2 separate regions of the Homo sapiens genome follow, and region 1 is linked to region 2. Evidence: fine-mapped expression QTL. Tissue or cell type: whole blood. Region 2 holds a variant in brackets; the other region holds the start of a gene. All regions are shown on one strand. Distances are between the middles of the regions.

Region 1 (2,514 bases), 28 kb after region 2:
CTGACAACCCTGGTAGCAGGGACTTGATACATTTTTTTCCTTTTAGGGAGAATTTCTAAATCGACCAGTATTTATGGAAAATGCATAAGCGTTTTTTTGTTTTTTTTGTTTTTGCCTTGACTCTGCCCTACACTTGCGGTGCGACCCTTTGGCAAAATTCAGTCCCTTTCTATGCCTCAGTTTCCCCATCGGAAAAATGGGAGTTTGAACAGCGACCGAAGCGCAGGGATCGCCAGTGTGGGAGAGCGCCAGGTGAACTGTGAAGGAGCAGGGAGGGAGTTCGGGCCGTGCCCGTGCGGGACAACCCCGGTATCCACTCTGGGCACCGCCGGCGGCGACTCCCGCCAGCGCCTAGGGTGCCTCGGTCCCGCCCCTACGCAGCGGAGGCCGGCCAGAGGCCGTCGCCATGGAGACGCGAGCAGCCTGGCACCCACTCGCTCTCAAAGCCACGCGTTTCCGCTGCGTTGGAGCCTTCTCATTGGACGGCCGTCTGGACGCTACCACCCGCCCCGAGCCCGCTAAGGGGAGGGGGCGGGGCCTTATTCTCATGGGATTCGTTCCCTGGAGACCTGTGTCCGCGGCCTCTCTGGGAAAGCATGGGTCCTCTCCCTCACGCGGGGAAAAGGACTGCGTCTCTTAGGTCTGGAGAGTGTCCATTGCTTCTCCTACTAGAATTTATGCTCATGCTGCTCCCTGAGAAAAGAAGAGGGGGCGGGAAAGTCGGCCACGCCCCCTCCAGAGCCTATTTGGTCTCAGGAGCTAGAGCACCGGAAGTGCTGGCGACATGTCAGTGCGCCCTACCCTAAACCTTCCCCCCCCAGGCCACCTTTCCCATTCAGCTGTGGGATTCCGGGGCCGCCTGGGCGCTGCACCCGCCACTTCCGCATCGAACCGCCGCTTCAACCGAACTCACTCCCTCTGCGCGCGCTCCATCTGGTGCCCGACTGCTGGGCCGGCGCCTGGGAGAAGCCACGCCCTTTCCCGCGCCTGACAGCCAATGAGCGGGCGCCTCCCGGCGGGGTGGTGGGTAATTAATGAGGGCCGGGCGCTGATTGGCTGCAGCGTCGTGGCCGGGGGCAGGGCGGCGGGGTAGGTTGTTCCTGAGGTGGGAGGCGGTACCCGTGGCTGAGAAGAAGGAGGCCTGAGAGCGACATGTCCCCGGCGGCTCAGGCGGAGCGGCCCGTGGCGCTGTTTTTCTGAGTCCGGGGTGGCCTGGCAGCCGGCCGAGGACGAGGGTCGGCGGGGGCTGCCCCCGTGGTGGTGGCCGCCATGCTGGGAGCCTGGGCGGTTGAGGGAACCGCTGTGGCGCTCCTGCGACTGCTGCTGCTGCTGCTGCCGCCGGCGATCCGGGGACCCGGGCTCGGCGTGGCCGGCGTGGCCGGCGCGGCGGGGGCCGGGCTGCCCGAGAGCGTCATTTGGGCGGTCAACGCGGGTGGAGAGGCGCATGTGGACGTGCACGGGATCCACTTCCGCAAGGACCCTTTGGAAGGCCGGGTGGGCCGAGGTGAGAGTCCCCCTGCCGAGCCGCGGGATCCAGGGCCTGCTGTGCTGGGCGCAGCCGGCCGGGGGCTGCGGGCCCCGAGCCCCTTTCGACCCTGGGGCCGCGTCTCTGGAGCGAAGTTTCTCTCTGCAGCTTCTTCGGGGGCCCGCTCTGAGCTCAGGGCCTGGCACTGGCTCCAAGGTACCTAGAGTCATACAGGCAGAGAGTTGGCCAGAAGTTAGTTATATTTGGATTTCTCATCCTGCATTTTCTCAACCCCTCACTCCCATCCAAGCTGGGAGAGAAATGACGAAGGCGGCCTTTTGCTACCTCCAGGCCTCGCGGGTTGTAGGTCATGGGTGCCCCTGCTTCTCCTGTCGAGACAGTTCTTGGGAGATTCTCGTCGACCCAGGAATCGGCCGCTTTCCTTGCCCCTTCTGCAGGAGCGGGGCTTGATTCTTAGCCAGAATAGGAAGGAATCTTCGAAGAGAATGGGCCAGGAAAGTTTGATTGTAGCCTCCTCCCCCGCCCTCTTTTCGAGCGAAGAATATGTGTGCTTAAAAGTAGAATCGGCAGGCCGCCCCCAGAGGGTGGTTCTATCGAAGCCATCCTGCACGTGAGGCTGGTGGCTGTGTGTGAACTGGGTCAACCAGTGTAAGAATCCGAATGGTCTATCAGAGAATGCTTACAACCTCCCCTAGGTGATCCTGAGAGTTCTAATTCCAGCTTAGGGGGAAAATGATTGTGACTTAACTTGCTGGGCAACAGTGGTTTTTAACGGAGCTGCTCCCTTCCCAAAGTTAGTGTGTGTCAGAATTGCCAGGGCAGCTGGTTAAAAATGCAGATTCCTAGTCCCCACTCGAAATTGATTATAGTAGATTGAGCTTTTTTGCTGGGATCCAGGTTTCTGCACCAGGGGCTTGTGATGTAGGTTGCCCCGAGACCACCGTTTTGGAAGATCAGCTTTATAATCTTTGTTTCTTCTGTTGGAGGGATTGGAAAACAGGTTTCAGAAGGAAGTTCTTTGCTAGGAG
Region 2 (2,753 bases):
TGCCTCCCAGGCTCAAGTGATTCTCCTGCCTCAGCCTCCCGAGTAGCTGGGACTACAGGCGTGAACCACCATGCTTGGCTAACTAAAACAAGGTTTTTTGGTAGAGACGAGGTCTCACTATATCGCCCAGGCTGGTCTCGAACTCCTGGCTTCAAGTGATCCCCTCGCCTTGGCCTCGTAAAGTGCTAGGATTACAGGCGTGGACCACCGTGCCTGGCCCATAGCGAGCTTTTTAGGTGAACGTCCATGCAGTCATCTCAGAGACACGCCTCCCTATGGGTGACTCCTACCCCCAGCCTGGCGGAGCTGGGAGCTTGCAGCCTGCTCCCTCCAAGCTCACACACACTCTCAACGCTGTCCTGCCACACAGAGCTACCTCTGAGCTCTTGGTCCTATGCACCTGGTTGTCCCATGAGATGTGACTCAGCAGCCCTTCCCTTTCTAGATGATCTGCAGATTTTCTGGTGTTGTCGTCTTTTGTCCTGGGGCCAGTTTGGAGTGGCTGTCTCTACTCATCCTGGCCCCGTTGGCTGGAACGGCCTGCATGCACAGTGGAGGTGCCACACGCTCACTGTGGCATGCCTGCGTGTCTGTGTTCGTGGGAGGTATGGCCATACCTGTGTGAGCCTCTTCAGGACGGGCACACCTGCCTGGTGTCCTCCCTGCCCAAAGGCAAAGAGCTGCAACATGCGGGAGGCTGGACGCTGAAGGCCACTTTTGGAGTCTACTAACCAGGTCCAGCTGGGCACCTGTATCCATTTCATGCCAGTCTATCTCCCTCCTGGGCAGGCCCAGGGCAACTGGCAGCTCACCAACCTGAGCTTCCTCCAGGCCTGCTCCTTGGAGATGTCTCTGCCATCTGTTCTGACGCCTAGATTCAGGGTTGCCTTGATTGCCCAGGAGACCTGGGCACTGCTTGAGGCTGGAGACATGTGCTTTTTGGACCCTGGCTCCAGCCAGAAGCACTGGTGGCCCCCGGGGTCCTATGTGGTGTCCTGTGATCCCATGACAGGGGAACGTACAGGGATGGGGGTCAAATTGGAGAAGGTGGGGCAGTGCCCGCGAAGCAGTCACAGCCCCATTCTGTTGCCACGTCTCCTCCTGACTCCTCCCTGTCCTCCTACCCTCGCTTCAGGATGGCCCTGCCTTCCCTCCCCTCCTGCGCCTCTTCTGTTGTCTTGCAGCCTCTGTCGCCCTGCTCTTCCTGTTTCATTGGGTGGTGCTCTCTTTTCCCTGTTGTGACCTCCCTGGACTCTGTTTTATTTGCAGGTTTTTGCCACCAGGCAAGCTCTGTTCTCTGACTCATTCTTTTTTTGTTTTTTTTTTTTGAGACAGGGTCTCACTCTGTTGTCCAGGGTGACAGAGTGCAATGGCACCATCATAGCTCACTACAGCCTCAAACTCCTGCTGACCCATTCTTGTATCTGGAACAAGGGGCTGGAGGCACAGAGGTTCTGTGCCCAGGCTGGTGGGGCTGGTGGCTTCTTGGGCATCTCCTGTTAGGGGCCCAGGAGCTTCTATGTCTAAGGGAGATGTGGGGCTTTCTTCTCCCCTCAAGGACCTGATCCAGGCACACCTGTGCTGCATCCTCGTCACCTCCTACCCAGTGCCTGCTGCCACGTGGATGGCCCCCAGGTTAG[G/A]TATTTTGTGACTTCCAGGTCCCTTGTCGCGGCTAATAGGACATGTTCTTTTGTTTCAGGATAGATCACTGCGACCAGAGGAAATTGAAGGTAAAACTTGGCCCCTTGGGGGAAAGGACTGCCTAGCCCTCTAGGAAGGTGTGGGAAGGGAGGTTGATGGGAAGAGAGGCCCCTGGAAATGGGGCCTGGTGCAACGCGGGGTATCTTCTGTGAAACCAGCTGCTGAAGGTGTGCACAGGAGGCAAGAGAAATGCCCCAGCATCCTGGGAAGCTCCTGGGCCTCTCTTTCCATGCCGGTGGGCCTTTGGGCTGCCTTTGCCCACAGAGGCTCTGCGGGTCCTACCCCTGACCACATCCACCTTTGCTCACTTCCCCAGAGCTCCGAGAGGCCTTCAGAGAATTCGACAAGGACAAGGATGGCTACATCAACTGCCGGGATCTGGGCAACTGCATGCGCACCATGGGCTACATGCCCACCGAGATGGAGCTCATCGAACTGTCCCAGCAGATCAACATGAACCGTGAGTCCCTCTACCAGGCATCTGCGTCCCTTCGGTCCTCACCCTTGCCGTCCTCTGCAGTCAGACAGGACTGGCTTCAAATTCTGCATCCACCTCTTACCAGCTCTGTGATCTGGGGCCAACCACTTACCCTCTCTGAGCCTCAGTTTCCTCACCTGTAAAATGAGGGCCGAATTGGAGGAGTGGAGCCCAGAAAGTAGATTAGGGAATATCTGTAAAACAGCCCAATAACTGGCTCACAGGAAGAACTGAACAGAGGGCTCTTGTTATTATTAAGTTTGTCTCTATCTGATGAGCAGGTCAAGGAGGGGTTGTCCATTCTGTCAGTTGTCTAGTTGGAGACAGGGAATGGGTATGTCGGGGATGACCTAGCCCTTTCCTCCTTTTCCAGTGGGTGGCCATGTAGATTTTGATGACTTCGTGGAGCTAATGGGGCCTAAACTCCTGGCAGAGACAGCAGATATGATTGGTGTAAAGGAACTGCGAGATGCTTTCCGAGAGGTAACGGACAGAGGCAGGCAGGCATGGGGCGGCTATTGGAATCCTATCTGCAGTATAAATACTTCAAAAGAAGCCTGAGCCTCAAGTCCCA

Evidence for each region. PIP is the estimated chance that this variant, and not a neighbour inherited with it, causes the effect.
Region 1: it holds the start of MLEC, and the variant in region 2 is fine-mapped to the expression of MLEC in whole blood (INTERVAL, PIP above 0.99).

What each region holds. Positions count from the first base shown.
Region 1 is chr12:120,686,028-120,688,541 of GRCh38, forward strand. MLEC (malectin) reads left to right here and starts at 1,122. Exons shown (of 5, transcript NM_014730.4): 1 at 1,122-1,504. The coding sequence starts at 1,270. It overlaps LOC105370029 (a long non-coding RNA gene), which reads right to left and starts at 1,122. Exons shown (of 3, transcript XR_945449.3): 1 at 827-1,122. RefSeq lists silencers at 241-340, 1,181-1,480 and enhancers at 501-610, 701-830, 925-1,426.
Region 2 is chr12:120,658,179-120,660,931 of GRCh38, forward strand. It overlaps CABP1 (calcium binding protein 1), which reads left to right. Exons shown (of 6, transcript NM_001033677.2): 2 at 1,700-1,730; 3 at 2,018-2,161; 4 at 2,553-2,662. Among named protein-coding and RNA genes, the nearest start is that of CABP1, 19 kb to the left of the region's middle. RefSeq lists enhancers at 174-675, 676-1,175. The variant G/A (reference allele first, on the strand shown) is at 1,641.